2 linked regions of the Homo sapiens genome follow. The protein of the gene in region 1 interacts with the protein of each later gene in a pairwise test. Each region holds a gene or a part of one and is shown in the gene's direction. Other genes may lie near its edges. The genes, in order: ZNF707 and RALBP1.

Region 1 (15,314 bases):
GCGTATCCTCTTGAAGCTGGTTTCTTCCTGGCCGACCCCGTCCGCGATCGTGACCTTAGTTATCCCTCATAGACACTTTCCACACCTGTGTCTCCAGCCCTATCGCTCCGATGAGACCCGAGCGCTTAGACTTGATTCATAACACCCAAAGCTCCCCGGCCCCAGGCTGAGCTCCTGCAACCTCCACACCCCACCCTCTGGTCCTCCCAGGCATTCCACCGCGAAGGGGAGGAGGCAGAAACCCGAGATTCGCTTCTTCTCCTTTCCTGCCCACGCCCAGCCACACAGTCACTGGTGCGTTAGCTCCATAACTGAACCATTTGCCTCCTTGCCATTCCCACCCTGTAAGTCCCAATCCTGGCCGTCTTCCTCTCTCACCTGAACGCCTCCCTGTCTTCTCCCCACCCCCATCCTGTTTTGCTGCTTTCTCATTTGTTCATCACAGAGGATCTTTTATAAAATGTAGCTTAGCCAGGCAAGGTGGCTCCCGCCTGTAATCTCAGCTCTTGGGAGGCCGAGGCAGGTGGATCACTTGAGTCCAGGAGTTCTAGACCAGCTTGGTCAGCATGTTGAAACCTTGTCTCTACAAAAAATACAAAAATTAGCCGGGTGTGGTGGTGCACGCCTGTAATCCCAGTTACTCTGGGGAGGCTGAGGCAAGAGAATCGTTTGAACCCAAGAGGCAGAGGTTGCAGTGAGCAGAGATCGCGCCACTGCACTCCAGCCTGGGCGACAGAGCGAGACATCATCTTATTAAAAAAAAAAAAAAAAAAAAGGTAGCTTAGGCCGGATGCTGTGGCTGACGCCTGTAACCCCAGCACTTGGGGAGGCTGAGGCCAGAGGATCTCTTGAGGCCAGGAGTTTGAGATCAGTCTTGGCAACATAGTGAGACCCCGTTTCTGCAAAAAACTTAAAACAATTGCAGGGCATGTTGGCACATGCGCTTTTGGTCCCAGCTACTGGGGAGACTGAGGTGGGAGGATCACTTGAGCCCAGGAGGTCGAGGCTGCAGTGAGCTGTGATTGCACTACTGCATTCCAGCCTGGGTGACAGAGCAAGGACCTGCCTCAGAGAAAAAAAAATCCTGTGTTAATTTGCCTAGGGGAAAAAAAGTAGCTATGACAATATCCTTCTGTTCTCCCGTATTAAACTTTGTTGCATTACACATGAAACCACGGCTCAGGAGGCCTTGAGGAATCTGGCTTTAGCCCCTTTCCTGGCCTATCTCACGGTTCTCCCTGACTCTGCTTTCCAGGCTGGGAAGCCCAGTCCAGGTTGTGCAAACACAGCTGTTGAGCTGAGGGGAGAGGGTGTTTTTTTTTTGTTTTTGTTTTTGTTTTTTTTGAGATCGTCTCGCTCTGTCTCCCAGGCTGAAGTGCAGTGGCATAATCTCGGCTCACTGCAACCTCCGCCTCCCGGGTTCAAGCAGTTCTCCTGCTTCAGCCTCCCAAGTAGCCTGGCTAATTTTTTGCATTTGTAGTAGAGATGGGGTTTCACCATGTTGGCCAGGCTGGTCTCGAACTTCTGACCTCAGGTGATCCACCTGCCTCGGCCTCCCCAAGTGCTGGGATTACAGGCGTGAACCACCGCGAATGGCCGGGAGCTGTTATTTTTATCACTGTGGTCATTGCTACTTGCTAGAGGAACTCAGCAAGGTGTTCTAATTGGAAAACACCACCCATGACCCATGTGCTCAGTGTGCCTTTTCATGTTTTTATAGACCGTTGTATAACTTTGGTTGAAGTGTCTGTTCTAATATTTTGCCCAGTTTAAATTTTATTTCTCTTTTTTATTGATTTGTAGGAGTTACAATTCTTTATATAAGTCCTTTGTCAGATACATGTATTGGGAATATTTTCTCTTAGTCTGTGGCTTACCTTTGTGTCTCTTTTTAGAAAAAAAAATTTAAACAATAGAGACAGAGGTCTCCCTATGTTGCCCAGGCTGGTCTCAAACTCCTGGCCTCAAGCAATCCCCCTGCCTTAGCCTCCCAAAGTGCTGGGATTACAGGCGTGAGCCACTGCACCCCGTCTCCTTTTTTTTTTTTCTTAACTGCCTTGGTAAACAAAAATTTTTAATTCTGATAAATCCAATTTGTGATTTTTTTTTTTTTTTGAGACGGAGCTTTGCTTTTGTTGCCCAGGCTGGAGTGCAATGGCGCGATATCGGCTCGCCGCAACTTCTGCCTCCTGGGTTCAAGTGAATCTCCTGCCCCAGCCTCCTGAGCAGCTGGGATGACAGGCAAGTGCCACCACGCCTGGCTAATTTTGTATTTTTAGTAGAGATGGGGTTTCTCCATGTTGGCCAGGCTGGTCTCAAACTCCGTACCTCAGGTGATCCGCCCACCTCGGCCTCCCAAAGTGCTGGGATTACAGGCGTGAGCCACTGCATCCGGCCTGAATTTGTAATTTTTTAAAAGTGCTTTTAGGGATCCATGAAAGAAATGTTTGTCTACCCCAATGTTGTGAAGATGGTCTCTCTGTGTCACCCAGGCTGGAGTGCAGTGGCACAATCTTGGCTCACTACAACCTCTACCTCCAGTTTGTGTTTTTTGTTTGTTTGTTTTTGTTTTTGTTTTTAAGACGGAGTTTTGCTCTTGTTCCCCAGGCCGGACTGCAGGGGTGCGATCTTGGCTCACAGCAACTTCCACCTCCCGGGTTCAAGCGATTCTCCTGCCTCAGCTTCCCAAGTAGCTGGGATGACAGGTGCCTGCCACCATGCCTGGCTAATTTTTGTATTTTTAGTAGAGACAGGGTTTTGCCATATTGGCCAGACTGGTCTCAAACTCCCCACCTCAGGTGATCCACCCGCCTCAGCCTCCCAAAGTGCTGGGATTCTAGGCATGAGCCACCACGCCCGACCTACTTCTTTCTTTGTAATCTTATGGCTTTATGTGTTTTTTCTACCTCCTTGCACTGACTCAGGCCTCCAATAAGGTGACAGAGAGAAGCAGTGGGCAGACAGCCCTGCTTTTTCCTGGTCTCAGAGGGAAAGAGCTCCGTAGTGGCCCATGAAGCAGGATGTTGGTTGCAGGTCTGCCGGGTTGAAGAAGTTCTCTTCTGTTCCTTGTTTGCTGAGAGTTTTTGTTGGGATTAGGTGTTGAATTTTAACAAATGCCTTTTCTGCAGCTATTGAGATAATAGCTGTTATATGGTTTTCTCCTTTATTCTGTTAATTTGGTTAGTTATATCATTTTCTTTTTTTTTTTTTTTTTTTTGAGATGGAGTCTCACTCTGTTGCCCAGGCTGGAGTACAGTGGCGTGATCTCGGCTCACTGCAAGCTCTGCCTCCCGGGTTCGTGCCATTCTCCTGCCTCAACTTCCCGAGTAGCTGGGACTGCAGGCTCGTGCCACCACGCCCGGCTAATTTTTTGTTTTTTAGTAGAGATGGGGTTTCACCGTGTTAGCCAGGATGGAGTTATGTCATTTTCAAATGACAGCAAATGTTGGGGATTAACATTGTGATTAAAGTTGATGCTATGCTGTTGAAAGAGTGAAAAAAAAATATCAAGTTGAAAAGCATATTCATGAAAACATGTAGCAGTTAATGTAACCACCTGTGAGTGTCAGAAGGAGAAAGGGAATGTCTGTGTACCTGCTGTGCTGGAGGTGGGAGGGACGAGGGGTCAGGGGTGAACGCCGAGGGAGCCGCCCCATGCAGTGAGTGTTGAGTGCAGGTGGTGGAGGGAGCCTCCTGGGCACCAACTGCAGTTAATGGGGATCAAACCAGCTGTGTACTCTTAGGGTCCATGTCACTTGGTCATGACAGAGAATTCTTTTTATAAACTGCTGGATTTGGCTTCCTAATATTTTTTGAGAATTTGTGTTTATGAGAGTTTGGTAGGTAATTTTTTTGTAATATCTTTTTTTTTTTTTTTTTTTTTTTCAGACAGCGTCTCAGTCTAACATCCAGGCTGGAGTGCACTGGCATGATCTCAGCTCACTGCAACCTCCGCCTCCCATATTCAAGCAGTCCCCCCACCTCAGCCTCCTGAGTAGCTGGGACTGCATATGTGCACTGCCACGCCCCGCTAATTATTGTATTGTTTATAGAGACAGGCTGGGCAACTGCTGGGCTCGAACAGTCCTCCTGCCTCAGCCTCCTAGGGTGTTAGGATTACAGGCGTGAGCCACTGTGCTTGGCCCCTTGTAATATCTCTGTCAGGTTTTCGGTTTGGGTTTTGCTGGCCTCATTAAGACAGACTGGATAGCGTCTGCTCTTCCTCTGTTCACTAAATAGCTTCTAAGATCAGTACTGTGCTTCCGTAGGCTTTGGTGGAGTTTACCAGGGAATCCAGCTGGGTGTGGTATTTTCTGTGTGGGAAGGGTTCCAGTTACATTTTCAATTGCCTTATCAGATGGAAGGCTTCCCTTTCTTTTGTCAGTTTCATGATACTGTGTTTTTCATCGAGTTTGTCTGTTTCATCTCAGTTGCTGAACCTGTTTGCATGAGTTGCTCCTGACGGCCCTTTAGGATACTTCCATGTCTGTAGGGTCTAGAGTGACATCTCCTCCCCTCCCCTGACGAGGTAACCAGGCATGGGCTATCTTCCTCCAGCTGGTTCTGTCTCTTCTCAGGGGTGCCTGTGGGGCTGGCCTCTTCTGCATCTTGGGGCTCTGAGCTTTACTCACGAAGGAGGCAGGACCCACTGTGGCAGGAGGGCAGTGGGATGCCAGGGTGGTTCTCTACAGACCTGGGGGTAGAAGCTGGATCTCAGCGGGCTGGGGCCCTAAGGTTTAGGGGATCTTGTGGCTTGATCTGGAGACTCAGTGAACATTATTGGGGTTTCTCGGGGCTGCACCAGGTTTTCACTTGGGGGAAGGCTGCGAGGTGGCCTCCTTGTAGCGTACCCGAGAGCATCCTCCTGGCACAGTGCTGTGGGAACGGGCTGCCCGCCTGTCTCCTGAGGAGGAGCCTCCGCTGCCTCAGTTGCGGTTAGACTCTCCAGTCATGTGTTTGCAGCTAAGCTGTTGGCTTTCAGCCAGCAATGGCTGGCCTGTCCTCCTCTGGTGACAGGCCTGGCTTGCTGTCTGGTATTTCAGAGTTCTTGTTTGTGGAGGTGGCACACTGTACCCAGCTGTCCCTTAAAGATATGTTGGCCCCTCACCACTGCCAAGTTTCCCCACACCTGGTGGCTGTCAGTAGTTACAGAGCAGACCCTGTGTGTGCATCACTCATTTTTCCTGAATTCCCCGTGATTTGCTGAGTGGGGGGGCTCCTGGGGTCAGGTGCGGGGGGCATTCCCAGGCCGGCTATACCCGCTTACATTTCTTGTCTCCCCAGATCTGCCCTCCTTGGCACTGTGCTTCCCCAGAGGGGTGGCCTCGCTGTTCCCATGGACATGGCCCAGGTGAGCCCTGCTGCTGCCGAGCGCAGCCTCCCTTCTGCCCTGCTGGCTGCCTGAGACCCCAGCACACACGCGGGGAGGGTCTGTGGCAGTGGCTTCCCAGGCACTGTGCCCGTGTCTGCCTTTCTGCCTTCTCTCTTAAGGGGTGGGGAAAGAAAAAGAAAATTGGGGCCAGGCGCAATGCCTCACGCCTGTAATCCTAGCACTTTGGGAGGCTGAGGCAGGTGGATCTCGAGGTCAGGAGATCAAGACCATCCTGGCTAACACGGTGAAACCCCATCTCTACTAAAAATACAAAAAATTAGCTGGGCACGCACCTGTAGGCCCAGCTACTCGGGAGGCTGAGGCAGGAGAATTGCTTGAACCTGGGAGGCGGAGGTTGCAGTGAGCCAAGATCGTGCCACCACTCCAGCCTGGTGACAGAGCAAGACTCCGTCTCAAAAAAGAAAAAAAAAAAGAAAAGAAAATTGGATTCATTGACACTAGGAGAGTAGTGGCTGTTGTAGGAAAGTAGACTAGATTCTCTTAGTCCACTAGAGCTACCGTAACCAAACATGACACAGTGGGTGGTTTACACACATGCACTTCCTCTGTTCCAAAGGCTGACGTCCAAGATCAGATGCTGCAGATCTGGTTTCTGGTGGGGGCCACTATTGTGCTGTGTTCACGCGTGTGCGGGGAGGGAGCCGGGGGGCTCTCTGGAGTCTCCTGTGAGGACCAGGTCCATGGGTCAGGGCCCCTCCCTTCTGACCTCACTTAACCTTAATCTCTTCCACAGAGGCCCATCTCCAGACACAGCCACTCGGGGCTCTGGGCTTCAGTGAATGGATTTAGGGGACACAAACAATCAGTCCACCGCAGGGCCACTCCCATTCCCCCTTCCCACCCAGACCTGTGGGCTGAGCCTTCTTTTTCTTGGGAATGGCCTCTTCGGGAGCTGTGTGTGTTGCAGGAGCCAGTGACCTTCAGGGACGTGGCCATCTACTTCTCAAGGGAGGAGTGGGCGTGTCTGGAACCCAGCCAGAGGGCCCTCTACCGGGACGTGATGCTGGACAACTTCAGCAGTGTGGCTGCTCTGGGTGAGCACGGGCTGAGCGCAGCGTGAGCACAGGGTGAGTGCTGGGAGAGCTCTGCCGCTGCCTCTGGGCCCAGCTCGTCCAGGACAGTAGTGGGGCCTCCCAGCTGAGGGGGCTCAGGAGCTAGAAGTTATTGGCTTATGTAGACAGAGGGGCCCACTCAGCGTTTCTCTCGGGCTCCCTGGAGGCAGCCTCATCTTCCTTCCTCTGACCTTGCCAGGGCCTTCCGTGGGCCTTGGTGTCCAGGCCCCTCCCTTCCTGTCATCTCTGCTTTGGGGTGGCTTCTCCAGGGCCTCCCGAGGGCTGGCCTGGCGTCTTAGGCTGATGCACAACTGCTCTGAGCCTCGACCCTCACTTTGTCCTCAGTACAAGTAAAACAGAAACTTTTCTCTCCTTTGAGAAGGATTTTGCAGCCCCAGACCAGACCTCGTCTCTCGCCTGGAACAGTGGGAGGAGCCGTGGGTTGAAGACCGGGAGAGACCTGAGTTCCAGGCAGTGCAGAGGGGACCCCGGCCAGGTGAGTGCTGGGCTGTCTGGGCTCGGCGGGCCCCGTCCCTGTGGCCCACAGCTCCTGGGTAGTGCTCAGCACGCTGCAGTGACCAAGGGTGTGTCCTTCCCATGGGAGAGCAGACACACAGCTGCTCTCTAAATTAGACAGGCATTAGAGACGTAGGGGCAGCCACGCTCCTGCCCTGATGGACACTGGCCGGGGGTGGGGCTCGAAAGGCATAGTGCTGCAGGATGACATACAGCTGCAGCTCGGAGGGGCCTGAGGCTGGAGTGACACTTGAAGCCTGCACCTAGCCACCCAGGTGCTGTCCGGCGGAGGCCATTGGTGTGGGTGTCTGACCTCCCTGTGATGGCCATGTGGGGTCCCAGGCCTGGTACTGACTGCACGTGAGGGTCTCCAGGTATGTGGCTCTGGGTAGGAGTTTGCTCCACGTCCTTGTTTGCAAAACTGGGACAGTGGCCATGCTTCCCTCCATTAGGTGAGGGTTGCTCTTGGGGCAGTTGTCAGCAGGGTTTTGCTTTTTACTTACATTTTCAGAGTGGGATGGAGCAGCTATGTGAACACGAGCCCTGGGAGGTCCCCGGGTATGTGGAGTCCCCGACTGTGGAGTGTCAGGTTCCTAGGTGTGTGGAGCCCCCGACTGTGGAGTGTCAGGTCCCTGGGTGTGTGGAGCCCCTGACTCTGGAGTGTCAGGTCCCCGGGTGTGTGGAGCCCCCGGCTGGGGAGGTGTCGGATCCCCGGGTGTGTGGAGCCCCCGGCTGGGGAGGTGTCGGATCCCCGGGTGTGTGGAGCCCCCGGCTGGGGAGGTGTCGGATCCCCGGGTGTGTGGAGCCCCCGGCTGGGGAGGTGTTGCATCCCCGGGTGTGTGGAGCCCCCGGCTGGGGAGGTGTCGGATCCCCGGGTGTGTGGAGCCCCCGGCTGGGGAGGTGTCGGATCCCCGGGTGTGTGGAGCCCCCGGCTGGGGAGGTGTCGCATCCCCGGGTGTGTGGAGCCCCCGGCTGGGGAGGTGTCGGATCCCCGGGTGTGTGGAGCCCCCGGCTGGGGAGGTGTCGCATCCCCGGGTGTGTGGAGCCCCCGGCTGGGGAGGTGTCGCATCCCCGGGTGTGTGGAGCCCCCGGCTGGGGAGGTGTCGCATCCCCGGGTGTGTGGAGCCCCCGGCTGGGGAGGTGTCGCATCCCCGGGTGTGTGGAGCCCCCGGCTGAAGGGAGCCATGGCTCTGAGGCTGAGTGGTTGAGAATCAGGTGGAGCTACCCGTCTTCTAGACGACATCCTAGCACCACCTCCACCCGCATGAGTGGGGCCTGCTGGCGTGGACAGGGTGAAAGGACATTCTCTTGGCCCAGTTGCTTCTGTTGGTTGGCAGGCATGTGTCGGCTCTCCCTCACGTCAGCAGTGCCGGGTGGCCTGCGTACCACCGGGGCTGGGGAAGCATCTGAGCTCATCTTGGCTTCCGCTGTTGATACCTGTGGCTCATCTGTGTTTCTTTGAACGAGTTTTCCTGATCACTCGTAACCATGTGGAATGAGCTGAGTCAATGGAAGCCAGTCCACGCACACAGCAGGAGGGTCCTCTGGGCTTTTTTTTTTTTTTTGAGACGGAGTCTCGCTCTGTCGCCCAGGCTGGACTGCGGACTGCAGTGGCGCAATCTCGGCTCACTGCAAGCTCCGCTTCCCGGGTTCACGCCATTCTCCTGCCTCAGCCTCCCGAGTAGCTGGGACCACAGGCGCCCGCCACTGCGCCCGGCTAATTTTTTGTATTTTTTTTTTTTTAGTAGAGACGGGGTTTCACCTTGTTAGCCAGGATGGTCTCGATCTCCTGACCTCATGATCCACCCGCCTCGGCCTCCCAAAGTGCTGGGATTACAGGCGTGAGCCACCGCGCCCGGCCTCCTCTGGGCTTTGCTGGAGGCACTGCCTGGCTGTGGGCCACTGGCTCTGTGTAAGGGTGTCTGTTCCTTCCACAGGGGCAAGGAAGTCTGCAGACCCCAAGAGACCTTGTGATCATCCAGCTTGGGCTCACAAGAAAACCCACGTGCGGCGAGAAAGAGCCAGGGAAGGAAGCAGCTTTAGGAAGGGCTTCAGGCTGGACACGGATGACGGGCAGCTTCCCAGAGCTGCTCCAGAAAGGACAGACGCCAAGCCCACGGCTTTCCCGTGTCAGGTGCTCACGCAGCGTTGTGGGCGGCGGCCGGGCCGCAGAGAGCGCCGGAAGCAGCGCGCAGTAGAGCTGTCATTCATCTGCGGCACGTGCGGGAAGGCGCTCAGCTGCCACAGCCGGCTGCTCGCTCACCAGACGGTGCACACGGGAACCAAGGCCTTCGAGTGCCCCGAGTGCGGCCAGACCTTCCGGTGGGCTTCAAACCTGCAGCGCCACCAGAAGAACCACACGCGCGAGAAGCCCTTCTGCTGCGAGGCCTGCGGGCAGGCGTTCAGCCTGAAGGACCGCCTGGCTCAGCACCGCAAGGTCCACACCGAGCACAGGCCCTACTCGTGTGGCGACTGTGGGAAAGCCTTCAAGCAGAAGTCCAACCTTCTCAGACACCAGCTGGTGCACACCGGGGAGCGGCCGTTCTACTGCGCGGACTGCGGCAAAGCCTTCCGGACCAAGGAGAACCTCAGCCACCACCAGAGGGTCCACAGCGGGGAGAAGCCCTACACCTGTGCCGAGTGCGGCAAGTCCTTCCGGTGGCCCAAGGGCTTCAGCATCCACCGGAGGCTGCACCTGACGAAGAGGTTCTACGAGTGCGGCCACTGTGGGAAAGGCTTCCGTCACCTGGGGTTCTTCACGCGGCATCAGAGGACTCACAGGCACGGGGAGGTGTAGGGGCGCCCGAAGAGTGGGGTGCTGCGCCTCTGCGGGAGTACTGGGTCCTGAGGGAGAGCTGCAGTGAGAAGTTGCTCTTCAGCCTGGAAAATCAACCTGAATTCAGAGAAGCCTTCTTAGTCCTCAGAGCTCCCCAGTCCCCCGAGAAGTTTACTGGGAAAACTGCCAGGTGGGAGAAGCAGAGCCATGGGTACGCCGGAGATGGCGGGGGCTCTGGAGATGGCGGGGGCTGCGCCCCGGCGCCGGGCATCCTGGGGATGTGCTGAGAGTGTGCGCGACCCCGGAGCCACGTGCCAGGCCGGGCTCAGAGGCGGAGAAGCCTGCCTGGTGCCCACAGCCGTCTGGCTCAGGGACTCCACCCTGGCCCCGAGTCGCCGTCTGCTGGGCCTTTCCTTCCTGGCTCTGCACCCCATGCTGGCTGCCCGGTCTGGCTTCCCTTCTTGTCTCTGTCTTGGGCGAGGCAGCTGTGAGCATTGCACAGAGGCAAAGACCCTCCTGCAGCCTCTGCGCTGGGCCGTAGAAACAAGAGCCTTTGTAATACTGAACCTCATTCAAGGATTAGGAGTGGTGGTTAGGTCAGGGCCACCCCCAGTGCTGCAGGAACGGCCTCCACCCAGCTCTGTTGGTCAGAGCCTGGGTCATGCACCTGGAGTTGGGAGATCAAGTTGGGTCTCAGGGCAGTGAGGTGGCCATATCCACCACATCGCATTTCGTGGGGGAAGAGGTGACCTCTTTGTTTTAAACTTAAGGTGTCTGCTTATCCAGCCAGAAATAAAAATCTGCCAGTGGTGTTCCCAAGGGAAGACCCCCGTGGGAATGGGTCGGGACACTGCCGTGTTTCAGGTTAGCCAATTATTTTTGCTTTTGCCTGTTTTTCTTTAAGAATTGCAGCCAGGCCAGGCGTGGTGGCTCACGCCTGAAATCCCAGCTACTCGGGAGGCTGAGGCAGGAGAATCGTTTGAATCCGGGAGGTGGAGGTTGTGGTGAGCCAAGGTTGCGCCATTGCACTCCAGCCTGGGCAGTAAGAGTGAAACTCCGTCTCAAAAAAAAAATTCCAGCCAACAGATGCATATGTAATGTTGGAATCAGAAACGAGTTTACAAGAAATAGGGGGATGAGGAGAAGGTTGAACACACCGAGAGGAAGCCCTGAGCCAGATCCGGCTGGAGATGCCACCAGACGGCGACGTTTCTGTGGGAAGACGGGCACGCAGAAAGGCCGAGGGGGCTGTGTGTGACCCTGGTAGGAGCAAACCGAGTGCGAAGTCACTTTTGAGACAATCATGGAAATGTGGGCACGGGCCGTGAGTCGGGTGGGTAGGCCGTGAGTCGGGTGGATGGACTGAGTCGGGTGGGTGGGCCGTGAGTCGGGTGGATGGACTGAGTCGGGTGGGTGGGCCGTGAGTCGGGTGGATGGACTGAGTCGGGTGGGTGGGCCGTGAGTCGGGTGGATGGACTGAGTCGGGTGGGTGGGCCGTGAGTCGGGTGGATGGACTGAGTCGGGTGGGTGGGCCGTGAGTCGGGTGGATGGACTGAGTCGGGTGGGTGGGCCGTGAGTCGGGTGGATGGACTGAGTCGGGTGGGTGGGCCGTGAGTCGGGTGGATGGACTGAGTCGTGTGGGTGGCCGTGAGTCGGGTGGGTGGGCTGTGAGTCGGGTGGGTGGCCGTGAGTTGCGTGGTGGGCCGTGAGTTGCGTGGGTGGGCCGTGAGTCGGGTGGGTGGGCCGTGAGTCGGGTGGGGGTGCGGAATTGGCTGCTAGCGGTGATGGTGACACAGGGTTACGGAGGAATCCTCACTCAGATGCATTTGGACGTCTTTGTGGGGAAATGACGTGGCGCCTGGGATGTACTTTACGATTCTAATAAAGAGGAGAAAGACACAACAGTATTGGCTGAATGTTGACAGCTGTTGAAGCCGGGAGGTTGGTGTGCTTAAAAGTTCCCCAAATCTTTTATTTGCAGCATGAGTATGAGTTTCTTCGTGCTCACGGAAGATTGTAGAGAGCAGCTGTCGGTCATGGAGTCACAGGGCTGCCTTACCAGGACACCACCGGCAGCCCCACAGACAACACAGGTTTATTCTCTCCAGCTCTGCAGGCTGGAAGTCCGAGGTAGAGGTGCCAACAGGGTCCGTTTCCGGCGAGCGCCTCCTGGTTCAGAGGCATCCTCATGTCAGGAGGGGCTTTGGTGTCACCTTTTCCTTGTGAGGGCCCGGATCCCATGACCCCTATCACCCCATCGAAGCCAAATCACCTCCCAGAGACCTCCTCATACCATCACGTCGGGCCTAGGGCTTCCACATGGGAATTTCAGAGTGACCATTCAGCCCGTAGCAGAAGCTCCTCTGGGTCTGTCCTGGCCCACAGACCCTGTGTAGGAAAAGCACTTGCCCCTGCGGGGCAGGCCCTGGCAGAGCCCGGTGAGGCAGTGAGGGCCCTGCAGGATAAGTGGAAATCTCCCCAGGGGGGATATGGGGGTGCCTTTCTCTTACAGAGTCCAGGCTGGTAAAAGCGCATGTGTGTTTCGTGTCTGGTTTGTCCCCTGCCCAGCGGGCGCCGTTGGAAGGGCCTTCAGGTGCTTGAGCACAGGTGGGGACGGAGCAGCTGGTGTCTCGGCAGTAGATGCGGCGGATCATAAGGACTTGGGTTTTGAGCGCCCTGCAGGAAGCCACTGGCCGCGTCCAGGGTCACCTGTGCCTGGTCGTTAGTCCCTCACAATGCTGTCACTTTGTGACGCTCTTGTGCAGGATTAAATGTGAACAGCAGAGACGTGGGTGATGCGCTGCCTCGTCAGATGATGGTCAGTTGTCCAAGCGGGCTGCCTTGCTCTTGGTGGCCTCATCATCCAGGGCTCACACACTGGATGGTTGGGCCACAGTCGCGGTACCCCCCGGGCTGCAGGCTTTCCACCCTGCTTAGCAGGGCTCCAGGGCTCCGGGTAGAGCAGGGGGTCCCTCCCTTGGCACTTCCCCAGGGAGGAGCACGACCGTGCTCAGCTGCGGTCAGGCTGCTGCTCTTAGTTGTCTTTCCTTCTAACACTCAGGCTTCCCTTCCTGCCTCCTGGGTCGCTGAAGAAGGTCAGGTCCACAGAAAAGGCCTGGGGAGAGAATGGTGGTGAGGAGCCCATGGGGGTGTGAGGGGCCGGGAGGCTCTGCATCTTGCCCTGTTGGCCTCCTCACCACCCAGGCGGGGGTGGGGTGACAGAAGGGGCTCACAGCAGGTGTCCCGTAAGGAGCATCTTCCTTCCTGGGGCCAGCAGCCGTCACTCCCTGTGAGCCTGTAGAGCCGAGTTTTCTCTGCATTTATCTTGGGCAGAGAATGCATGAAGCTACTTCGCGGCCAGAATGGGTGCACAGCAGGGTCCGTTGACAGCCATGCCTGTGACCTAGCCTTCCACCCCTCTGTCTCCAGGGGACACTTGCCTGGCCTTTGTGTTAGCGCTCAGCACACATGTGTCCAGTGTAAAGTCCACCAAGATTAGCAGGGCATGGTAGCTGCCGCCTGTAATCCCAGCTTCTCAGGAGTCTGAGGCAGGAGAATTGCTTGAACCTGGGAGGCGGAGGTTGTAGTGAGCCAAGATCGTGCCACTGCACTCCAGCCTGGGCGACAGAGTGAGACTCCATCTCAAAAAAAAAAAAGTCCGTCGAGAGAGCAGGTGGCGGATGCAGCTGAGAGCTCCAGGAATGGGAGGGCCACGTGGTAGCCACTGGCAGCCTTGACTGAAAGATGAAGGAGTCCATGGTGCTAGGAGGAGGAGTTGCATCCCAGCAGGCTCAGCTCCTGGAGCTGCCTCTCTGCACTCTGAAGGGAGGCCCAGTGGCTGCAATATTCTTCTTTGGGAAGTACAATGCCAAGTAAATAAAGATATTTGGGGTCATTCTAGTTACAACGTATCATAAACTCTACTCACTGTTGTTCTGGGTGTTCATGGGGTCCGCCGTGCGTACCAGTCTTACAGGTCCTCAAACCCATTGGGACCCTTCAAACGAAGAGTGTGCGTGTGGAGTTGGCAGAACCTGACCCGGGCCAGGGTGGAGGGACAGCTGCGTCACTGAGTGCATGTCCAGCCCTAATAGCTCGCTTCGTTGTGTTTGTATCTGTGACCTCTTGGGAGCTAAATCACAGGCCCACCAAACGAAACGTTTTGGGGAATGTGAAATGGGTGGGTTTTGAGCTGGTCCCCAGTGTGAGCTTAATGTTGGAGCCATATTGGATTTTAAAACTTCAGAGGCTCCTTTTCCCGGGGCCAACCATCCTATGTAAAATTCGAGGGCCGATGGTGGAAGCCTGGAGTCCGGTTACAGTGGTAACTCCATGAGGGGAGACCAGCTGTCATGCACCTGAGCACCCAGAATCACTCACACTCCCCACTCCTCCCCTCCCCACACGTGCACACTTAGGAAGTGTGGCAGCCTGACTGCAGGAGAGCCATGATACCACACACAATCCAAACAAAGGCAGAGCAGCCCCGCCTTAGGACAGGTGAGCCTGTGGCCTGCACACCCATTGCCACAGCTGGAGGGCTGTGTCCTTTCCACAGAGGGGTCGGCCAGCCTCGTCTTCTGATCACACTACTTCAAAGGTGCTCAGTCCACTCACCCCACCTCCAGCTGCAGTGTCTCCACCGGGGACCACGACCACCATGTCCATGTTCAAGCAATTCTCTGCCTCAGCCTCCCAAGTAGCTGGGATTACAGGCACCCGCCACCACGCCCAGCTGATTTTTGTGTTTTCAGTAGAGACGGGGTTTCACCATCTTGGCCAGGCTGGTCTTGAACTCCTGACCTCGTGATCCACCCGTCTCGGCCTCCCAAAGTGCTGGAATTACAGGGATGAGCCACTGTGCCCAGCCACCTCAGGGCCTTTTTGCAACTCCGGATGTGGGAGATGACAAAACCACCATGCAAAGAGGGGAAAGGGCGGAAACAATTTATTTGAAAAGGAATAAGGAAAGTGAGTGACTAGTTAAAATTTCAGTATTTGGACACTGCTGAACAGATGTCGGGTGGATCCAGCAGCCGGGGAGCTGTGGTGGGCTGTACGGCGGCCGCCGAGCAGTAGGACACGGTCTCCATCGCCCATCACCTTCCTTGGGGTTTACTCAGCAACTCGGCTGGCCGCGGCCCTGGAGCCGCATGCCTGAGCATCTAAGGATTTCCTAAAGGGGCCTGAGGTCTGTCACCTGGACACGTGGCGAGAGACAGGGAGTGACCCTCTCAGATGACTTACAGGTTGGGAGAGGAGAGATGTCTGAAGGGAAATACACCAAGTCTTTTGTGGCAACTCAACGAAACTGATGGCTTCTGCCTTGTTCTTCAGGGCAGGTCCTCCTGGCCAAATCTGTTCAGCGTGCAGATGCAGACCTAGTCCTACTCTCTTCCTGATTCCATCTCTCCCTTTAATCCCATAGATAAAATCCAGCCCTAGGCTGGGCGCGGTGGCTCACGCCTGTAATCCCAGCACTTTGGGAGGCTGAGGCAAGCGGATCACTTGAGGTCAGGAGCTTGAGACCAGCCTAGCAAACATGGTAAAACCCCATCTCTACTAAAAATACAAAAGT
Region 2 (15,314 bases), on another chromosome or scaffold:
TTCTGCCAGCTCTTTCTCCCTTTCCATTTCTCCTTTCTTCTCTTTCACACCCTCACCTTTGGCTAGGCCACTCGATGTTGCAAGAAACACGTCCATCAGCAATTGCCTCAGTAGAAAACTCCCTCTGCTCCCCTCCTGCATCCACATAGCAGCTTCAGGCAAGGCCTCCATAAGGCCCAGCGTGGATCAGTGCCTGCCCCTTGGCCGAATCAGTGCTGTCACAGGCAGAGAATTGTCACTGCCATGCTCACCTGCCCAACCCAGTGGTCAGAGAAGACTGTTCTACTGCGAGAGGAGCCATGAGAAGGCTTTTCCGAAAGTCAAAGACCAATGGCTACCTCAGACCATCCCGTATCCACTCGTGGGAGGCCCCTGAATGAATCTAAGGCCCCAGGGGTTGAACTTTACTGAGTAGGGAGCGCAGAGTACTAGGGACAAATTTACCGCCCGCTTTGAGGAAAGCTGATGTGGGAGCAGAGAGCAAGATGGATAGCAGCGGCCAATCTAAACGGGCAACGAAGTGCCACAGAGTGCTGCACGTAGGAATGCGAGTGACAGGTAGGGTCGTCTATTCCAAGTCCCTCCTCTCCCCTAATAAACTGCCACATTTCAGAAAACACGAAGACTGCTGAAGCCGTTTCCAGCCTTCGCTACGCATTAGCAGAGCAACTCAACAAGCCTGGGTGAAAGGCTTCTCGAAGAAATTCAGTTATCTCTACTGCCAGCCAAACACGGACTGGGCAGCTTTCCTCGGGGGCTGCTCGGTAACTGCTGAGCCGGGGGCGCGCTGAAGCCCTGCAGAAGCCCACACCCGCTTCAGGAATTCCGTGGATGTTCCCGACAGAGGTTTATTCCCGCCTATCCCTACAGGCCCACGGCGCTCTTTCCTCCAATCCCACACCCAGTCGAAGGCGGGGCAGCCGCCCCACCCAGCGGCCAGCCGGGCGGCCCCCAGTCTGGTTTAACTGGTTGGAACGACTAAAGCACGCTGGCGCAAGGAAAGCTCTCAACTTCGGGAGCTGAGGCGCAGGCTGGCCAGAGCGTGGAGAGGAAAGCCCTTTCCATCCTCAAGGCCGTTGCAGGAGATGCCCGCGAGCCACCTTCGCCAGCACCACACCGGGGTAAGCCGTCCGTCCCCGAAACCCGCAAGGCCACCGACTGCGCAGGCGCCTGCAGAGCACTGGCCCTCGGCGCGTTCTCTCGCGCTCTTCTTCAGTCTCCTCAGCGAGCCTGGGGACGAAGGGGGCGCGGTGCCTCCTGGGTGTTGTAGTTTGCTTCCTTGGCGAGAGGCCTTCGGGCTGGCTGGACGCCGGGGCCTTGGGAACTACGCCTCCCAGCGCGCCCCGCGCGAGAGCCCAGGTCGCCTGCCCTTGACGGCTTCAGCCGTCTGAGCGGAGAGGAGGATCCGGGAAGCCGGCTGCGGCGGGAGGAGGGAATGCGCGTGCGCGCTGGACCGCCTCGTCCCGTTCCGTCCCAATCATTGTAAACAGGCAGAGGCTGGGCGGGGTGGGAATGGGGCGCCCGAGGCCGGCCTGGGGCGCAGCGCAGGAGGCGGCTCCGGTGGCTGCGGCGGCAGCGTGAGCGCGAGGAGGCGGAGGCTGCGGCGGGGCGGACGGTCGCGCGGCGGCAGGCACAGGTCAGTCGCAGGGAGCGGTCGCGTGCTAGGGTCGCGGCGATACCCCTGGAGTGCCCGAGGAACCCTCTCCCGCGCCGGCCTCGCGCCCGCGTCTGTCAGGCAGCGTGTGGGGCTCGGTGCTCGCAGCGCTCGGGTTTGAAGTTGGGGGTGGGGGGCGTGGCTGCCCCTGGCGTGGGTTCCTCCCCGGAAAGCTTCGCCCCAGTTTTCGCCCCCCTTGGCCGTGCGTCCCTCCCACTGGCCGACGGGCCTCCCTTCGTGGCGTCCTCGTTTGTGGTGCTCTCGGGGGCCGGGGGTGGAGAGTTAGGAGTCCCCAGGCCTCGGGGAAGCTCTTGGGGGGCGCCTGGACAGAGGCTAGGGGACCCAGCCCTCACGGTTGGTGGATCGTGCCCGGCATAGTGGCCAGGCTCCAGGGCTTACCCAGGGGACCAGGACAGGCTCCTGGTGTCGCCCACCGCTGGCACTGAGCAGTGGGCGCCTTTGGGTGCTGCGATCCTTCCTTCAGGTTTCAGTGGGAATGGACAGACAGATCTGAAGTTGAAAATTCTTTTCACAACTCATGTTCAACTATGTGTGTTGTCAGAATGCTCTTAATGAGGTCAGTGTTCTCCCTCTTTTTTTTAAAACTGATCGTTGTGAGAGTGAAACAGGTTTTACAGAATATTTAACACCTCCGTCTTCCCTGAAGTAATTCTGCTGTTTCAAGTTTTGGGATTCAGTATTACAAAGCCTTCCTCTTGAGCAAGGCCTAGTACAATTCTTCAAGGTCCCTAGCATGTTAATTCGAGGTGTTTTGAACGTGCATATACAGGAAGTGCAGCCGTTTGGCCGTTGAGTTAGTGCTCCATCCAGCCTTGTTAGAAAAGCTTTCGCTGAATTTTTAATTTAGTGGAGTGGTCATGTTCTAATGCTGCAGTACTTTGGGGAGTATTCCATTATACTTGGCAGTTATTAACGAAATACTGAACTTGTGATAAGGTTTTGTTTTGGTGCTCAGCATTTCTAAATGAATAAGTGGGACTGTGAATAAGAAAGATCACCTCACTTTCTGTTTTTAGAGTTATTGTGGTCATTTGATAACTCCTTTCTGTCTTTGTGAAAATAATTACTGTAAGCTGGAGTGGCGGTAGTAGGGGTAGGAAGGAGGTCAGTAGAGTGGTTTCCACCTCTCATTCAAAGTATCTGGTAGATCCAAGTGGGGTAGGTTAGTTAACAGTAGCTTTTTTTTTTTTTTTTTAGTTTTTTATTTTTTGAGACAGAGTTTCGCTCTTGTTGCCCAGGTTGGAGTGCAATGGCATGATCTCAGCTCACCACAGCCTCTGCCTCCTGGGTTCAAACGATTCTGCTGCCTCAGCCTCCTGAGGGGATTACAGGCATGCGCCATCACGCCCGGCTAATTTTATATTTTTAGTAGAGACATTTTCTCCATGTTGGTCAGGCTGGTCTTGAACTCCCGACCTCAGGTGATCTGCCCGCCTAGGCCTCCCAAAGCGCTGGGATTACAGGCGTGTGCCACCGCGCCCTGCCAACAGTAGTAGCTTTTGAGAAGTGACTCTTTAAACAAGGTATCTCGAAACAATGTAATACAACTTAGTTTGCTTTCTCTTCAGGATATTGTTTCTAATTATGGATCTTATCCAGACTATTTCTCCCCTAATTTAGAATAGGAAAGTGGTATCAGAAAGTGCATAATAACTTTAATTTGTACAGTTATATTTGCATAGTTGTTTGCTTGGCAAGAAGAGATCGGGCCCAGCATGTAACCCAAAAGAATATTGTTTCTGTTTTGAAAGATCCCTGATAGAAACTTATGTTAGTTTGTATAAGAGGGTACAAGGAAAAATGCAGATTATTTAGAATACAGGAATTACTATGTAGAAAGTACTGTGACCAGGTGAAGAGGACTTAAAGATACAGAAGGCAGTGTTCCTGCCTTCAGGGTAGTTGAACCTTATCTCTTACTTTAACTGTCAACAAGTACAAGATTGTTTTGATTGAAGAACATATGCGGGTACAGTGGATGTACAAAGGAGATAGTGGTCAGTTTCTTAAAGTGAAGAAAAGAGCTGAAGAAGAGGGAAACTGTAAGGAAAAACTATGTAGAAGGTGATGAAAATCAGGAGTGTACAGGCATAGAAAGAATGGGCATTTAGGTAGAAGGAGCAGTGTGAGAAAAAGCATGGGAGTCTAAAATTAGAGAGTAGCATCTGCAAAAATAGCAAGTATAATACAGGGTGGTGGCAAGACCTGAAACTGGGGAGATAGGCAGAGACCAAATTATGGATCTTGCAGACCATCAGAATAATTACAATTTTATTTTATAAGCAAATAGGAGTCATTGAGAGGACAAAGAAGAGACCTAAGCCAGCTCAGCCCATTTTTAACCCTCTGCTATAGGTCAGGCACTGTATTAGGTACTGTATATTTTATGTCCTTAAGCTTAAAGAAGGCTTAGTCATGACTAATGCAGAAATTGGGGGGCTAGGGCAGGGATGGGGAAGGAACTTTTAGAGGGAAAGGTGGGCAGAAACGTAGGTGAGAAAGAACATGGAACACTTTTTTTTTTCCCAATACAGACACCATCACTCAGTTTTATTGGTTTTGTCTTATTAGCCTCTGAAGTAGGCAATTATTGGTGTGAACATACATTTTGAAAAACATCTGGAGTCAAGAGTGCACGAGTGTCAACTCAGTGCAAGTACTGTTGGTAAGCATTATGTCCCGAGGATGAAATCGGAGGACCAACAGGCCCAGGAGGCTTCACAGCGAACACCACATGCCTCGCGCCCAAAAGGACAGCAGACCGCGCTTCAGAACGGAACCGCCTTCTCCATGTAAACTTTTGACGTAAACTGTGTGCTTCAGGGTGGCCTCTTCTTCTCCGAGATCCTCTCCTGCGTCCCGAGTTTGGGAATGGCCCGGCCGTGCTCAGGCCCAGGCGGTGGAGGCCTCGGTGTAGTAGTGCCGTGCTTGTCGACGTTCCCAGGAGTCCGGGTTCAGAAGCCCCCTCTCCGGTGGATTGGCAGCTTCGCGGTAGCTGGGCTAGTCTTCCTCTGGAAACTCAGTAAAAAGAGTCGGCGCTGTCCGCCTGAGCGCGGGTTTCCTACCGAGCTAGAGGCCAGCCTGCCTCAGGCGCAGAAGGGTTTGCCGCCGGCCTTGGTCAGGGCGAGCAGCTCCCTGGTGGCGCCCAGAGCTGGGGTGTCCTGGGGCGCGGCAGGCGGAAAGGCACGCGCGGGCCAGGGGTGCAGTCAGCACAGAATATGGAAGAGAATGGGAAGTTGTTTTCTGTAGCTGTAGCATTAGTTGTGGTGATAAGTAGCAGAAGATGAGGTTGCAGGTATCCTCAAAAGTATTGCGTGCCATTCCAAGGACCTTACCATTTTTTCCTGTAGATAACAATAGGGTTTATGTATTTTAATGAACAGAGAGACATGATAAGATTTTTCTTTTTATTTTTTTTTTACTTTTTTGAGATAAGGTCTCACTGTGTCACCCAGGCTGAAATGAAGTGGCACTCACCGCACTCCGTCATGGCTCACTGCAGCCTCGACCTCCCAGGCTCCAGCGATCCTCCCACCTCAGCCTCACGAGTAGCTGGGACCACAGGTGAACGCCACCACACCTGGCTAATTTTTTGGTATTTTTTTTTTTGTAGAGATGGAGTTTTGCTGTGTTGCCCAGGCTGGTCTTAAACTTTGAGCTCAGGCAGTCCACCCTCCTCGGCCTCCTAAAGTGCTGGGATTACACGTGTAAGCCACCATGTCCGGCCAAGATTTTTATTTTAGAAAGATCATTCTGGAATTGTAGAGTAAGGATTTCAGAAGGGATGGAGAGAAGGTAAGAATGGATGTAGAAAGACTGTTTAGGAGGTTTTTGCACTAATCGAAGTGAGAAATAAGGGTCCAAACTAAGGCAATGTTAGAGGGGTTATGGAGGAGGAGGGTAATAGAAATATTTAGAAAGTAGAATTCATAGGATTCAGCAACAATTGGATATGGGGAGTGAGGGAAAAATAATAGAATAAGATGACTTGGATTTTAACTTGGGTGATTGAAGAGACAATGGTAAAATATACTGAGATGGGGAATTCAGGAAGAGAAGCACATTTGAGGAGAAACAGTATTTTAGCTTCAGAACATATTGAGTGGAAGTTATCTGTGAAACATCCAGGTGGAATCATCTGCTATGGAACTGTGAATGTGGATTTGGAGTACAGTATAACAGGCTATATTATGAGTGGTATCTGAATTCTTTGATTTAGATAACACCAAATAAGAAGAGTTTGTTAACATAAAATAGTTCTGGAAATAGGCTGTGGAGAACATTTAAAGCCAGATAGAAGAAGAGCTGGGAAAGGAAATTCCTAAGTGTTTGGAGATGTAGAGAAATCATGAGAAAATGTCATAGAAGCCAAAGTGGGATCTGGCACCATCACAGCTCACTACAACCTCCGCCTCCTGGGCTCAAGCCATCCTCCTACCTCAGCCACTCAAGTAGCTGGGACTGCAGACACATACCACCACACCTGGCTAATTTTTGTATTTTTGGTAGGGATGGGGTTTTGCCATGTTGCCCAGGCTGGTCTTGAACTCCTGGGCTCAAGCGATCTGCCTGCCTTGGCCTCTCAAGTGCTAGGATTACAGGTGTGAGCCACTGCATTGGGCTGGGATCATTTTTAAAGGAAGTTATACTTCACAATCAACTCTCAAGAAAAAATAGAAATTAATTTTTTTTTTTAAAAAAGGAAAGCCTCAGGCACAGTGGCTCACACCTGTCCTCCCAGCACTTTGGGAAGCTGAGGTGGGAGGATTGCTTGAGCCAAAGAGTTTGAGACCAGCCTGGGAAACATAGGGAGACTGGTGTCTCTGCAAAAAAAAAGCAATTAGCTGGCTGTGGTGGTGCACACCTGTGGTCCCAGCTACTCAGGAGGCTGAGGTGGGATGATCGCTTGATCCTGGGAGGTTGCGGCTGCAGTGAGCTGTGATTGTGCCACTGCATTGCAGCATGGGTGACAGAGTGGGACCCTGGCCTAAACAAAAGGAAAGCCATACTTTAAATGCTTTGAAAAGTTGAGCGAAAGAAGTTATTAAGAGTCTATTGATTTGGTATTGAGGAGGTTATTCAATTTGATAACTGTGTGAGAACAGTTTTGATAGAATGGTTGGGGGACGAGGTAGGTTTCATTGAGTTGAGGAGTTGAGGTTAGAGAGTGGAAAAGCATATGTAGATTATAATAAATAAATCAATTTTAGCCATGAAGGGGAGAATAGAAAGAGGTGGTAGCAGAGGGTGATAAAGGGTTAACAGATTTTTAACATGGCAAAGACTTGAACCTGCTTTTCTTTTTTAAAACAGCTTTATTGAAATATAATTCACGTATCCATAAAATTCACTCCTTTAAATTATACAATTCATTGGTATGTAGCATGTAGTTATTCATTGGTCTGTGTGACTTAATTTTTTTTTTTTTTTTTTGAGACAGAGTCACACTCTGTCACCCATGCTGGAGTGCAGTGGTGCAGCCACAGCTTATTGCAGCTTGACTTCCCAGGCTCAGATAGATGATCCTCCGACTTCAGCCTCCTGAGTAGCTGAGACTACGGGTGTGTGCCACTATGCCTGGCTAATTTTTTGTATTTTTTTTGTGGAGACGGGGTTTTGCCATATTGCCCAGGCTGGTCTCAAACTCCTGGGCTCAAGTGATCCACCTCTCTCGGCTTCCCAAAGTGCTGGGCTCAATGAGCCACCACGCGCAGTCTCATTGGTTTTTAGTACAGATGCTTCTCTACTTTTCTCTACTTACGACACAGTTACATCCTGATAAACCTATAGCAATTCGAAAATATTGTAAGTGGAAAATGCATTTAATGCACCTAACATCATAGCTTAGCCTCGCCTACTGTAAACATGCTCAGAACACTTACATTAGCCTACAAAATCCTCTAACACAAAGTTTATTTTATAATAAAGTGTGGAATATCTCATGTAATTTATTGCATACTGAAAGTGAAAAACAGAATGATTTTATGGATACCATGTAAAGTTGAAAAATCCCAAGTTGAAACATTGTATGTTGGGGACAGTCTGTATATACAGAGTTGTACAGCCATCACCACAGTCAATTTTAGAACATTTTCATTACTCCCCCAAAAAAACCTCCCCATTAGCAGTAGTCACTCACTATTTCCCCTGCCCTCATTAATCTACTTCTGTATCTCTTGATATTTCAGATATTCTGGATATTTCATATAAATGAAACCATATATATCATCTTTTGCAACTGCTTTCCCTCACTTAATGTTTTCAGGGTTCATCCATATTGTAGGATATATTAGCACTTCATATTTTTTATTGCAAAACAGTACTCTCTTATCTGGATATACCACATTTCATTTATCCATTTATCAGTTGAACATCTAAGTCGTTTCTCCTTCTTGACTATTCTGAATAATGCTGGTGTGAATATTCATGTACAAGTTTTTGTGCGGGCATACGTTTTCATTTCTTGTGTATATACCTAGGAGTAGAATTGCTGGGTGTGATGTTATACAATAAGAAATATATATTTGGTCTTGGTCTGGTTCCTAGCCTAGAACTTCAAAGATCCTTGGAACTCCCTGAGTAATAGAGGTAATAGAGCATATTTTGGAATTCATAATAAGTCTCTCAGTCACATCTGAATTTATGCTAATAAAGTGATTCTTGGTAGGCCCCTAGACAACTTCAGGATGGAAGCTGGTTGCCAGAAGAACCAACTGTGTTGATTAGAGAGTTGGAACTTGCAGCCCCACCCCTGGATGGGTGAGGGGGTGGTGGTGAGGACTGGGTATTGAGATCAGTTATCAGTGGCCAGTGATGTAATCAATCATGCCTGTGAAATGGGACCTCCATAAAATCTTCTAAACAGTGGTTTTCAGAGAGATTCTGGGTTGGTGAATGCATCCTTATGCTGGGAAGGTGTTGCTTCAACTTCATGGGACAGAAACTCCTATACTTGGAACCCATCTCGGCCTCACCCTTGTGCCTTTTGATTTGGTGGTTTATTTATATCCTTTATAATAAACTGATAGGCATAAGTAAAGTGTTTCCCTGAGTTTCGGTGAGCCATTCTTGCAAATTATTGAACATGAGGAGGGGGTTGTGGGAACCCCTATTTATAGCTATTTGGTCAGAAGTACAGGTGGCAATGTGCAGCTTGTGGCTGGTAACTGAAGTGAGGGTAGTCTTGTGGAACTAAGCCTGTGGAGTCTGACATAAACTCTGGGCAGTTAGTGTCAGAATTGAATTATAGGGCACTCAGTTGGTGTCTGGAAAGTTGGAGAACTGTATTGGTATGGAAAAACACTTCCACATGTGGTGTCAGAAGTGTTGTTAGAAAACAGCTCATGTGGTAACTCTTGTTGAACAGTTTGAGGAACTGCCAAATTGTTTCCCAAAGCGACTGCACCATTTTATAATCCAATTCTCCAATTTCTCTACATCTTTGCCAATACTTGCCATTTGCTTTTTTAAATTTTAGCTATCTTGGGGTGAAGTGGTATCATGTTGAGGGTTAGATTTTCATTTCCCTGGTGGCTAAGATGTTGAACATCTTTTCATGTGCTCATTGGCCATTTGTATATTCTCTTTGTGGAAATATCTACTGAAATCCTTTGTCCATTTTTGAATTGTATTGTTGGTTATTGAAAGAGTTCTTTGTATGTTTGGTTACTAAATGTTTATCAGATATATGATTTACAAATACTTCTGTTTTCTGGGTTGTCTTTTCACTTTCTTGATAATATACTTTTGATGCATTAAAAGTTTAAATTTTACAGTATAATTTATCTGTTTTTTTTTGTTTGTTTGTTACACAGGCTTTTGGTGTCATGTCTACATTGCCAAATCCAAGGAATGAAGATTTATTCCATACTTTCTTCTAAGAGTTCTGTGGTTTTAGTTCTTATATTCAGTTGTTGGTCCACATTTTTATATGGTGTGAGATAGGGGTCCACGTTTTTTTGTTTTGTTTTGTTTTTGAGACAGAGTCTCACTCTGTCGCTCAGGCTGGAATGCAGTGGCACAATCTCAGGTTACTGCAATCTCTGCCTCCCAGGTTCAAGCAATTCTCATGCTTTGGCCTCCCGAGTAGCTGGGATTACAGGCGAGCGCTACCACGCCCGGCCAATTTTTGTATTTTTACTAGAGATGGGGTTTCACCACATTGGCCAGGCTGGCCTCAAACTCCTGGCCTCAAGTGATCCACCCACCTTGGCCTCCCAAAGTGCTGGGATTACAGGCGTGAGCCACTGCGCCCTGCCAGAGGGGGTCCACTTTTTTGCATGTGGTACTCTAGTTGTCCCATCCTCATGTGTTGAAGAGACCATTATTTCCTGATTGAGTGGTCCTGATATCCTTGTTGAAAAATCAGTTGACCACAAATGTCTGGGTTTTTTCCCCTGGACTCTTTGTTTGATTCTCATGGTTGATATAGCTATCCTTATGCCAGGTACCATGTGCTGTTTTGATTACTGTGGCTTTGTAGTACATTTTGAAATTGAGATGTGTGAATTCTTCGACTTTGCTGTTTCCAGTATTTGTTGGCTCTTCAGGGTCCCTTGCAATTCCATATGAAACTGAGGATCCATTTCTGTAAAAAAGGCCATTGGAATTTTAATAGAGATTGCATTGAATTTGTAAAACATTTTGGGTAGTATTTCTGTTTTAAAAATATTAAGTCCTCCAATCCATTAACAATAGGATGTCTTTTCACTTATTTAGTTTGTCTTTAATTTCTTGCACAATATTTGTAGTTATCAGTGTCAAGTCTTTCACTTCCCTGGTTAAATTTATTTCTATTTTTTTTTTAGGTGCTGTTGCAAATGAAATTGTTTTTTAAATTTGTTTTTCAATTTGTTTTTCACAATTGTTTTTCACAATTGCCTAGTGTTTAGATATACAACTTATTTTCTGTCACCTTATATCGTGTGACTTTGCTGAACTCCTTATTAGTTCCCATAGTTTTCTAGTGTATTCTTTTGAGTTTTGTATATAAGATCATGCTGTCTGTAAACAGAGATAGTTTTACCTCTTCTTTTCCTATATGGGTATCTTTTATTTATTTATTTTTCATTCCTAATTGCCCAGGCTAGAACTTCCCATACAATGCTAAATGAAAGTGGCAATAACAGACTTCCCTGTCTTGTTCCTTATCTTAGGAGGAAAGCTTCCAGTCTTTTACCATTTAGTATAATGTTAACTGTGGGTTTTTCTTTCTTTTCTTATTTTTTTTGAGACACGGTCTCATTCTGTCACCCAGGCTGGAGTGCAGTGGTACAATCATGGCTCACTGCAGCCTTGACCTCCCAGGCTCACGTGATACTCCCACTTCAGCCTCCTGAGTAGCTGGGTCTACAGGCATGAGCCACTATGCCTGGCTAATTTTTGTATGCTTTGTAGAGACAGGGTCTCCCTATGTTGCCCAGGCTGGTCTGGAGCTCCTGGGCTCAAGCTTCTGCTTCAGCCTCTCAAAATGCTGGGATTATAGGCATGAGCCACCATGCCTGGCAACTGTGGGTTTTTCATTGATACACTGTATCAGTTTAAGGATGTTCCTTATGTTCCCAGTTTGTTGAGTACTTTGTTGAGTGTTTGTCAAGTGTGTTGCTTAATTATCTACATATTTTTGAAGTTTTCAACATTTTGTCTGTTATCGATTTTCAGTTTCATTTCATTGTGATCAGAGAACATACTTTGTATGATTTTAGTCTTTTAAAGTTTATTGAGGCATCTTTTATTGCCTAACATATGATCTGTCCTGAGACTGTTCCATGTGCACTTGAGATGGATTCGTATTACATTGTCTTTGGGTGGGGTGTTCTATAGATGTCTGATAGATCTAGTTGCTTTATAGTGTTGTTCAAGTCTTCTTTTTCATTGTTGATCTTTTCTCTAGTCTATCCATTATTGAAAGTGAAGTATTGGGAGTCTCCGTTTATCATTGAACTGCCTCTTCGCCTCTCACTTCTGTCAGTTTTTGTTTTGTATCTTTTGGAGGCTCTGTTGTTATGTGCAGTGTATGTTTACAATTGTTGTATCTTGTTGATGGATTTACCCATTTATCATTATATGATATTTAAGAGATAGTCTTCATTGTTTGGTATTAGCATAGACTTTCTTTTATTTTTATTTTTTTTGAGACAGAGTCTTGCTCTGTTGCCCAGGCTGGAGTGCAGTGGCACGATCTCGGCTCACTGCAACCTCTGTCTCCCAGGTTCAAGCGATCCTCCAGCTTCAGCCCCCGTAGTAGCTGGGACTACAGGCATGTACCACCATGCCCGGCTGATTTTTGTATTTTTAGTAGAGACAGAGTTTTGCCGTGTTGGCCAGGCTGGTCTCCAACTCCTGAACTCAGGTGATCCACCCGCCTCAGTCTCCCAAAGTGCTGGGATTACAGACATGAGCCACCGCACCCGGCCTAACATAGACTTTCTAGTTCCCTTTTGGTTACTGTTTGCATGAAATCTCTTTTTCTTTCTTTCTCTTCCTTCCTTCCTTCCTTCCTTCCTTCCTTCCTTCCTTCCTTCCTTCCTTCCTCCCTCCCTCCCTCCCTCCCTCCCTCCCTTCCTTCCTCCCTTCCTCCCTTCCTCGTCTCGCTCTGTCACCAGGCTGGAGTGCAGTAGTAGCACGATCTTGGCTCAGTGCAATCTCCGCCTCCCGGGTGCAAGCAATTTTCCTGCCTCAGTCTCCTGAATAGCTGGGAGTACAGGCTCGCGCCACCACGCCTGGCTAATTTTTGTATTTTTAGTAGAGACAGGGTTTCACCATGTTGGCCAGGATGGTCTCCATCTCTTGACCTTGTAATCCACCCACCTTGGCCTCCCAAAGTGCTGGGATTACAGGTGTGAGCTACTGTGCCCAGCCTGGAATATCTTTTTCTATCTTTTTACTTTCAGCTTATTTCTGTCTTTGAATCTAAAGTGAGTCTCTGTAGACAGGCTACGATTGCATCTTGTTGTTTTTTAAATCTGTCTGCCAATAACTATCTTTTAATTGAGGAGTTTGATTTATTTACATATTACTGATAAGAAAGAACTTCTGCCATATTGCTATTTGTTTTTGATACATCTTTTTTGTTCCTCAATTCTTCCATTGCTGCCTCCTTTTGTGTTAAATACATACTTTTCATTGTACCATTTTAATTCCTTTATGTTTCATTTGTTATATATTTTCGTAGTAGTTGACCTGGGATTACAATTAACATCTTAATTTGTAACAATCTAGTTCAGATTAATATCAACTTAATTTTAATAGTGTAGAAAACTTTACTCCTATGTAGTCCTACCCCCTTTATGCTGTTATTGTCACAATTACATCTTTATACATTGTATGCTCATCAACACTGATTTACAGTGATTGCTTTATGCAGTTATTTAACTCAGATAGGAGAAAGAAGAAATACAAACAAAAATACATTTATACTCTTTTTAATATTTACCTACATACTTTTTTTTTTTTTTTTTTTTGCGACAAGGTCTTGCTGTCTTGCCCACACTGGAGTGCAGTGGCATGATCCTGGCTCACTGCAGCCTTGACCTTCTGGGCTCAAGTGATCCACTTTGGCCTCTGAAACTGTTGGGATTATAGGCATGAGCCATCATGCCCGACTGTAATTACCTTTACCAGTGTTCTTTATTCATGTGGATTTGAGTATCGTCTAGTTAGTGTTTTTTCAAAGCAGCATGATGGACTCCCTTTAGCGTATTTTTTTTAACAGGATAGGTCTACTAGCAGTGAGTTCTCTTAGTTTTTCTTAATCTAGGAATATCTTTTCTTTTTCTTTTTTTTTTTTGAGACAGAGTCTCATCGCTCTGTTGCCCAGGCTGGAGTGCAGTGGCGTGATCTCAGCTCACTGCAACCTCCACTTCATGGGCTTAAGTGATCTTCCCACTTCATCCTTCTGAGTAGCTGGGACCACAGGTGTGCACCACCACACCCAGCTGTTTTTTTTTTTCTTTTTTTGTATTTTTTGTAGAGATGGGATTTTGCCATGTTGCTGAGGCTGGTCTCGAACTTCTGGGCTCAAGTGATCTGCCTGCCTCAGCCTCCCGTATATCTCTTATGTTCTGTTTTAAGGGATTCTGTATTCTTTCTTTTTTTTTCCTGATCCTCAGACTGACCTATTTCAATTAACCTATCTTCATGTTCACTGTTTCTTTGTTCTGCCTGCCCAAATAAGCTGTTGAGCCCTTCTAGTGAACTTTTCATCTAAGTTATTATACTTTTCAATTCTATAATTTCTATTAGATTTTTTAAAAAATTCTCTTTATCAATACTCTCTTTTTGGTGAAACAGAGTTATCTTGCTTTCCTTCAGTTTTTAAGACATGGTTTCCTTTAGCTTTAGAACATACTTAAAATAGCTGATTTAAAGTTCTTATGTAGTCAGTCTAGTCAGTGTCTGGGCATCCTTAGGGACAGTTTCTTTTTTCTATTTTTGTGAGGCAGAGTCTCACTCTGTAGCCCAGGCTGGAATCCAGTGGCGCAATCTTGGCTCACTGCAACCTCCGCCTCCCGGGTTCAAGCAATTTTCTTTCCCATCTTGGCCTTCCAAAGTACTGGGATTACAGGCGTGAGCCACCGTGCCTGGCCTGGAACAGTTTCTGTGATTGCTTTTTTTTTTTTTAATGGATCATTCCTTCTTGTTTCTTTGCATATGTGTAAGTTTTTGATGAAATTGGACGTTTTGACTCCATCGCTATATTTCCTAGTTTCTTTACAGATGGATAGGCGGCTGGATGAGATATAAATAATATGATTGTCTTTTTAGTTAAAAACATGTAAAATTTAGTTTATTTTGAAAAAGATAATACCCATGGCACATAAAGGTTAAATTGTCTTTCCCCCTTTACCCTTTTCTCAGCTGAGATCTCTTTGAAGGGATAAAAACTTAATATTTCCTTGTATATTCTTCCAGAGATGTTTTATATACATGCAAGTAGTATGTGTGAACATGTAAATACTCTATTGTAAACAGTCACGAGGAAGTAATATGTACAGGAAGGGAATCAGTATTTGTTGACACCTATTGTGTAACAGGCACTGAGCCTGTTTCTTTATATTTGAGGGAAGTGTTTCAAACTGATCGCCTTGAACGTTTATACAATTATTTTATGAAGCTTTTATATAAAACGTTATTGAAAACAAAAATACTGGCAGAAGTCATTTGGAATTGCTTCTAGAGCTGGCACCATGTATTGAAGCATGGCAGTCCCTCAACAAGTGAAGGTTAAGTTAGTTCAGAAGCACTAAAAATTGAGAACCAGGTATTGTGATAGGTTGAAAATAAAACTTTATACCATTGCCGATGTTTAAAAATGAGGTATACTTGTCATTTATAAAACTGTTGTTGTGTGACTAGAACTTTCTTTGTAAGCTTTTTTATATGTATTGACTTTTCACAATCTGCCATTGATAGGTGCCATCAGATAAATACATAATAAGGAACTATTATTGAGAAATGAGGATCGAGGGGGAGATGAGAGAAGAAAGATTTTTAAGGAAAATGCAAAAATTGAAGTAGGACATTGGCAATTTTCAATGTTTCCTTCCAAAGTAGAAATATGATTTGTTTTGTTTTTGTTTTTTTGTTTTGTTTTGTTTGAGCTGGAGTCTTGCTCTGTCGTGCAGGCTGGAATGCAGTG

The links.
Region 2: the proteins of ZNF707 (region 1) and RALBP1 interact in binary tests that used the Homo sapiens proteins (3 or more experiments, as listed by UniProt).

Annotation. Positions count from the first base shown.
Region 1 is NC_000008.11:143,684,774-143,700,087, forward strand, and holds the end of ZNF707 (zinc finger protein 707), read left to right. Parts: intron 1-2,143; exon of another isoform or gene 2,144-2,241; intron 2,242-2,607; exon of another isoform or gene 2,608-2,705; intron 2,706-3,220; exon of another isoform or gene 3,221-3,294; intron 3,295-3,888; exon of another isoform or gene 3,889-4,430; 5' UTR 4,431-4,528; intron 4,529-5,283; 5' UTR 5,284-5,335; coding exon 5,336-5,350; intron 5,351-6,125; exon of another isoform or gene 6,126-6,299; coding exon 6,300-6,426; exon of another isoform or gene 6,427-6,459; intron 6,460-6,823; exon of another isoform or gene 6,824-6,826; coding exon 6,827-6,940; intron 6,941-7,471; exon of another isoform or gene 7,472-7,520; coding exon of another isoform or gene 7,521-7,557; intron 7,558-8,897; coding exon 8,898-9,757; 3' UTR 9,758-10,612; downstream 10,613-15,314. UniProt on the Homo sapiens protein: May be involved in transcriptional regulation.
Region 2 is NC_000018.10:9,474,056-9,489,369, forward strand, and holds the start of RALBP1 (ralA-binding protein 1), read left to right. Parts: upstream 1-1,457; 5' UTR 1,458-1,636; intron 1,637-1,639; exon of another isoform or gene 1,640-2,231; intron 2,232-4,209; exon of another isoform or gene 4,210-4,467; intron 4,468-15,314. UniProt on the Homo sapiens protein: Multifunctional protein that functions as a downstream effector of RALA and RALB. As a GTPase-activating protein/GAP can inactivate CDC42 and RAC1 by stimulating their GTPase activity.